2 linked regions of the Homo sapiens genome follow. The protein of the gene in region 2 interacts with the protein of the main gene of each other region in a pairwise test. Each region holds a gene or a part of one and is shown on either strand. Other genes may lie near its edges.

Region 1 (3,500 bases), on a different chromosome or scaffold from region 2:
GAAAAGCTTCCAGGGTTTTTGGAGATGGGGTATCCTTGCATGGTTAGGTTTTAGATAGCTGAATTTTCTCTTAAAGCCAATTTTGTCCTCTTACCATCACTATGAAGCTATAAAATGGGATTCATAATTTAAAAAATATATATAGGAAAGTAATTTTTAAATGGAAATTTCCATTATTACATATCAATATACAGCAAAATTAGTAAGTTGTGGGGCTGTCTTAAATGGCTGTGTTCCCAAATATTTAAATAATATGTAAATGAACTTGTTTGTAATTTTAGGTTCATAAGCTGGCTTCCCTATTAATGAGAAATGGTAAATTATATTTTATAGATATGTGTTATTGATTATTCTTGGGGCATATATGGTTCAGCACTATATCCTTGCATAGTAGTGAAAATAGGAGCTTGTGAATGATCAGTTTTTCTGATGGCTAGGTCTGACCCAGACATTTCATTCCTTTCCATTACATGTAGTAAGTCAATCAATGAAGTGGTTTTGGTGTCTCTCACACACACACACCCCTTCTTTATTCAGAAAATTTTCAGTGAAGTAGTTTTGGTGTTTTTCACACACACACACACACACACACACACACACACACACACCCTTATTCAGAAAATTTTCCCGTAACACTTATCTCAGTTTTTCTTGAGACATATAATTCTTTTGATTTTTGTGCCTATAGAAAATTGGGGATAATCTGAAAGTGTTAACAATTTTTTTATAGGTTATTTTATCTGATGCTAGTGCTCCTGGTGAAGGAGAACATAAAATCATGGATTACATTAGAAGGCAAAGAGGTAAAGCTTACTTACCAATATTTGATTATATGTTCTATTTTTAAAAAGCCATTGCATAGAAAATACTTGGTATGAAGTGATATTCTTGTGGTATATAATATATTAATATAAATACATGTTTCTCTCTTGTTTAGCCCAGCCTAACCATGACCCAAATACTCATCATTGTTTATGTGGAGCAGATGGTAAGTTTCTTCTTTGGGATTTGCTTCTTTTGGATTAAACCATAGCAAGTTGATGGGTTGGTGTGCAGTAATGGATTATTCATGGTTACCTGGAAGTTCCAAAATGCCTTGGTTATTTTATGTTCGACAGGGAACTAGTATTGAGTTGCTGTTTAATCTGTGGTCAATGATCTTTAATTTCTTTTCTTCTTTCTTACATTTTTCAACCTTTTAACTCCCCATACCTTTAAAATGGAGAATTTCCCAAGTGTTTAATCCTTAGTGGCAGTCTATGTTGTAGGTCCACGTATCTAGAGGACTTCCTGTTAACTGGGAAATGCCAGGAAGTGTCAAGCTTTGGGGCTTTGCTGCTCATTTGGGTGCTCATTTGGGCTTTTCTTTGTGTTGGCATCTCATAGTAGTTTATGGTAAGACTTCTCTCAGAATACTCACTGTTCGATGTTTTTCTCATTGTTGATTGATAGCTGATCTCATTATGCTTGGCCTTGCCACACATGAACCGAACTTTACCATTATTAGAGAAGAATTCAAACCAAACAAGCCCAAACCATGTGGTCTTTGTAATCAGTTTGGACATGAGGTCAAAGATTGTGAAGGTTTGCCAAGAGAAAAGAAGGGAAAGGTAAGAACTTTGAGATGGTAGTTGCCTCATTAAAAAAAAAAATCTATTGTGGTAAAATGTATATGACATAAAATATCATTTCAACCATTTTAAAGTATACAATTAAATAGCATTAAATATTTGAGTTACCTTGTTTTTAAAATGGATGAAGAGAAGATTGTGGTTGATTAGTTCTTTATGTGCTTGTTCTGTTACCGTTACCCTTCACAGAGATGTATCTTTTTTCTTTTTTTTTTCTTTTGAGACAGTCTCGACAGAGACGAATCTTTTAAAGTACTTTAAAATAAACCTGCATTCAAAAACATGCACACACTCATCCTTTCTACTTAGCACTTTTTCTGATATTGCCTATATCTACACGAGGCTTAGTTCCCATAGATAATAATGCCCATAGCTTGTAATTTGTTTGTGGAAGTTATTTGTTTGAAATACTCTTCTTAAAAGGAACTACAACTTCTTAAGACTTTTAAGTTACTCCCACTTTTTATGTATTTTAGGTTCACTTGGTTATGTCCAGTCCCCTTTAAAGGGGCTTCTGTTTCAATAATATGGTGCCTCTTGAGTCATATGCTTTTTGAGGGGGGAAAAAGAATATGGTGCCTCTTTCAAAGACATCGTTAAGTGAAAAAAGAGATAAATATAGTGTATTATTTCAGATATGTAATACAATAAAGACAGTATACATGTATCTATGCACATCTGTTCACAAGGAAGGGGTAATCATTGGTTGGGTATAGGTCATCAGTTGGCAAACTTCAATCCTCCAGGTTTGGCCTGTGAGCTATGTTTTTTACATTTTTAAAGTGTTGTTAAAAACAAAATAAAACATGAAAGACTATTAAACAGAGATCATATATGTCCCCCAGTAGCCAAAATAATTTACTGTCTGGCCCTTTGCAGAAAATGTTTGCTGACCCCTGATCTAGACGTGGTTGATTTTATGGGTAATTTTTATTTTAAAATGCATTGGTGAGCTTTTAAAAATTAAATACTTGTGATATTAAAATGGATTGTGCGTTAGAAAAAGCCTTAAAATTTGCTTGGTTGGAAAAAATTACTGGACGTAGAGTAGACTTGTTTCATCTTCATTCCTGTTCTTGCAGCATGATGAACTTGCCGATAGTCTTCCTTGTGCAGAAGGAGAGTTTATCTTCCTTCGGCTTAATGTTCTTCGTGAGGTATGTAGCAATAATCATTGAAATCAGCACTCTAAAGCAGGGTGCCTTTGATAGCTGTAATGGCAGCATTCCTTTTTGGTTGTAGTATTTGGAAAGAGAACTCACAATGGCCAGCCTACCATTCACATTTGATGTTGAGAGGAGCATTGATGACTGGGTTTTCATGTGCTTCTTTGTGGGAAATGACTTCCTCCCTCATTTGCCATCGTTAGAGATTAGGTATGTGCATTTGTGTAGCTTTTCAAACGACTGTTTTAGGCTTCTTGACTTTACTGTGCCTACTGGTCCTAATGCATAATGTTTGTCTCTTGCTGACAGGGAAAATGCAATTGACCGTTTGGTTAACATATACAAAAATGTGGTACACAAAACTGGGGTAAGTTCATTCTTGAATGATTTCAAAACAGAAGTATTTGCTTTTATAAGAAGATCATTTTACATATATTTTATCACTTACAGGGTTACCTTACAGAAAGTGGTTATGTCAATCTGCAAAGAGTACAGATGATCATGTTAGCAGTTGGTGAAGTTGAGGATAGCATTTTTAAAAAGAGAAAGGATGATGAGGTAAAGTGTTTCTATTGCAGTAGCTAAAATTGCTCCTGTCTCTAATAGGCTATGATGATCCTGTGATTACTTTTAATCTCTTTGAGTGTGTTTTTATATCATTATGGTGTGTCAACACTAATGTAATCATGAGTGGTCAGTGCTT
Region 2 (3,858 bases):
TCTTGCTCCAAAGAGCAAAATTCTTAAAACTCCATATTTTTAAAAAAAGTTGCATTAATTATAACTTGTTAAATGACTGAAAGACAAATGAAGATTGTATTATAACTGCTATAAATTAACTTAAAGTGAGACTGAGACTGGTAAATGGTATTAATAAAAGGTTTTTTTTAAGCCAGGTGTGGTGGCTCACGCCTGTAATCCCAGCACTTTGGGAGGCCAAGGCAGGCAGATCACTTGAGGTCAGGAGTTCGAGATCAGCCTGATCAACATGGAAAAACCCCGTCCCTAATAAAAATACAAAATTAGCCAGGCGTCATGGCGCATGGCTGTAATCCCAGCTACTCAGGAGGCTGAGGCAGGAGAATTGCTTGAACCCAAGAAGTGGAGGTTGCAGTGAGCTGAGATCACGCCATTGCGCTCCAGCCTGGGCAACAAGAGCGAAACTCCATCTAAACAAAAGTTTTTTTTAAATGTAAGATGTTAGCACTCTAAAAAGATGTAGTAGTTTGAGTGTGGACTCTAAAACCAGGCTGCATGACTTAAATCCCAGCTCTGCTATTTATAAGCTTTGTGTTCTTGGGCAAGTCGCTCTGCACTGTGCCTCAGAGTTTCCTTATCTGTACATTGGACAGAATATAATAGCACTTACCTCCTAGGCAGGATAAGTGGATTGAAAGAGTTTATGTATGTAAACCCCCAAAACAATGTCTGATACATAAGAATTAATCTCAGTAAAGGCTATGCTATGGTCTGAATGTTTGTGTTTCTGCAAAACTCATATGTTGAAACCTAATCACCAATGTGATGGTGTTAGGATGTGGATTCTTTGGGAGGTAATTAGGCTCTACCCCCATGAATGGACTTATTGCCCTTATAAAAGAGGCCCCAGAGAGTTGCCTTGTCCCTTCCACCATGAGAAAACACAGCAAAAAGGCACCATCTATGAACCAGAAAGCAGGCCCTCACCAAACACTGAATCTGCCAGTACCTTGATCTTGGGACTTCCCAGCCTCCAGAACTGTGAGAAATAAATTTCTGTGTGTAAGCCTCCCAGTTTATGGTATATTGTTATAGCAGCCCAAACTGACTAAGACAGGCTATTATTTTAACTTAAAACAATTACCCTACTTAAAGAATCCATGAAATGACCACGTAATTTTTAACTGCTCTGATAGCTCCTTTAAGAAATGAGAAAAAAAAAACCATGTTGTACATTTTTGGTTCATAAAGGAGTATGATATAAAAAGGTTACTGCTACTCACTAGTTTTATTTCTTAAATATTTGTTTATTGAAAACTCAGTTTTGACAACCAGATGGCATTGAAAATCACTAATATATAAGGTGAAAACATAACATCATATACAGCTCCCAAAACAGCTTCCTCTCTTACAGGCAAAAATGCCTAGTAAGTATTAACAGGACATTCTCTTTATTGACTATTTTAAAGAATAATTTCTAGACATTTTTCTATGATTTTCCCACAGAGCCTTGCACATGGTAGGTTCTCAATATGTACTTAGTGAATGAATGTCACCAGTGTCGTGACTTTAACACAGTTTGAATGAATTCTTAATGCCTTCTAGCCACACTATATAAATGTAATCAAGATGGAATTACATCAGGTTGTCAGATGCACAGCTTTAGAAAGGAAAGTTAGGGAAATAAAACACAAGTTTATATATATTAAATTAACACAACTTATTAAGTAAAGACATTTGAGTTAAAATGAAGCAAAAATTTAAAAATTATACTTACCTATGGTCTTCACTTGAAGTGATGATCTCATTATTTGAAGTTACTGAAGTTGTTCCAGACCCAACTAACATAGGCTGGTTTAAAAGACAGAAAAATGACAATGATTTTCTACCTTAAAATTCCATTAAAGAGAAAAATCATTAAAATTGATGAATACTTATATAAACACACATACAAATTGCTGATATATAAGATCTATCCAAATTTTCTTATAAACAGGAACACATAGTAATAAAAGTTTCAACAGCCAAAAATAAGCTCAAATTAACATTTAGGATAGTTTCCAATGCTCCAAAAAAATTTAAATGTTACTCAGTTTAAACTCCCATTTTATCTAAACTAAATACATAGTCAAAGATAAAAATAAAAGTTGTATTGGAACTCCTTAACTGTTCTCATCCTTTGAAGATTTGCTACTCTCTCTCACTCCATCCCCCTTTCTGCTCCCCACATACACACAAGAGCCATGAAGAACCCACCAAAGACTTAAAAATTGTGCCCTACTTCTGGCACAGTGGCTCACGCCTGTAAGGCCAAAGTAGGCAGATCGCTTGAACGCAGGAGTTCTAGAACAGCCTGGGCAATATAGCAAAACCCCATCTCTCCAAAAAATACAAAAAATTAGCTGGGCATGGTGGCATGCGCCTGTCATTCCGGCTACTCGGGAGGCTGAGGTGGGAAGATCACTTGAGCCTGGGAGTTTGAGGCTGCAGTGAGCCGTCACTGTACCACTGCTCTCCAGCCTGGGTGAGAGAAGGAGACCCTGTCTCAAAAATAAAAATAAAAATGCCCTACTTATCTAATGGGCTTGGAGGAGAGCCTTTGGTGAGAGGAAGGAAGGGATTCTATCAATCCTGGGACTGTCATAATGATTAGTATTCATCATTTTTAGTTTAAATATGTTATCTATTTTTTGAGACTTATTTATTTTTTGGGACATTATGACAATTTTTTTTTTTTACTCAGAAATACCTAGAAAAATAAAAAAGACAATAAAGAATACGAGTGTCAAGACTTGCTATTATATAATATGAACCTGGAATTTCTTCAAAATGTAGAAGACTGCCAAAACATCTTTAAGTCCTAGAAAGTCTTTCTCTACAAATGTTTCAAAATATCCCAAGAATTGCTCAATTCTAATGTATATGTCCAACTAACTATTTTGGAGAGTTTAGACAAGAATTAATACAGAAAATACTCCATACCTTTGAATCCTTTGGCTTCTTTTTCTTGCTTTTGTTTTTCACCTTGGTTGAACTAAACTAAAAAATGGGGGGAAAAATCAGTGAACACTCAAATAACAGCATTATGAAGCTCAACATAAAGAAACCATATGAGTTTTTACAGACTAGCCATAAGTTAAATGTACATAAAATGTTTAACAAAAATAACACTACAGTGTATCAGCCCAAGTGCTACGATTTATAATAGAAAACAAACAAAATTTAATAATACTAATGTATACTAAAATTAAGTTGTTCCAACATTTTTATCTTATTTTCCACAGGGTTGGACTGTTATTTCAAGTAATTAATCAGACTTTTAAGTAATTCCAGTTAGATGCCATAATAGTAAATTTATTATTAATATATTTCTTTTACTAAGCCAAACTAGACATTCTGCACCTGACCAGACACTGGGGCACAAACAGTGAATAAAGAAGCCTTCAGCTCCTTATGGAGTATTTCAGCTGTGTTTCCCTGCTTAGCTGGGCAATATTTGATGGAGCAGATTAAGACAAAATTTCATATAGATAGATGATTTGCTCCTGAAAATCAGTAAACAGGCATTTTTCTCTTTGAAAACTGCCACAATGTTGTGCTTTTCTCTATTTACTCACTTTCCTAAACTGAAGAATTTCTGAAGAATGAATAAAAGGCAACTGCAAACTACTAAGGAAGACAACTCTGGAACTGTTTTAACTTAAACGTAATTTAGAGCCACTCAAAACAAAGTCCCTTTGTTTTCCTTCTAGAGCAGAACATTAGAAGTTTAGTTATTAAAGACAACTTTTCATTTTTATGCCAGGAGATGAAGAACTCTTCCTTTCTTAATTAGAATATTAATGTTTATCAGCTCTGAAACTTTATAGAAATTGTCTA

The links. Proteins that work in one complex are often made in the same cells at the same time.
Region 1: the proteins of TTC3 (region 2) and XRN2 interact in a two-hybrid assay, tested with the Homo sapiens proteins (one large-scale study listed by BioGRID and IntAct).

What each region holds. Positions count from the first base shown.
Region 1 is NC_000020.11:21,330,831-21,334,330, forward strand, and holds part of XRN2 (5'-3' exoribonuclease 2), read left to right. Parts: intron 1-730; coding exon 731-803; intron 804-937; coding exon 938-988; intron 989-1,452; coding exon 1,453-1,610; intron 1,611-2,713; coding exon 2,714-2,788; intron 2,789-2,873; coding exon 2,874-3,007; intron 3,008-3,106; coding exon 3,107-3,164; intron 3,165-3,247; coding exon 3,248-3,355; intron 3,356-3,500. UniProt on the Homo sapiens protein: Possesses 5'->3' exoribonuclease activity. May promote the termination of transcription by RNA polymerase II.
Region 2 is NC_000021.9:37,159,962-37,163,819, reverse strand, and holds part of TTC3 (E3 ubiquitin-protein ligase TTC3), read right to left. Parts: intron 3,019-3,858; coding exon 2,962-3,018; intron 1,831-2,961; coding exon 1,757-1,830; intron 1-1,756. UniProt on the Homo sapiens protein: E3 ubiquitin-protein ligase which catalyzes the formation of 'Lys-48'-polyubiquitin chains. Mediates the ubiquitination and subsequent degradation of phosphorylated Akt (AKT1, AKT2 and AKT3) in the nucleus.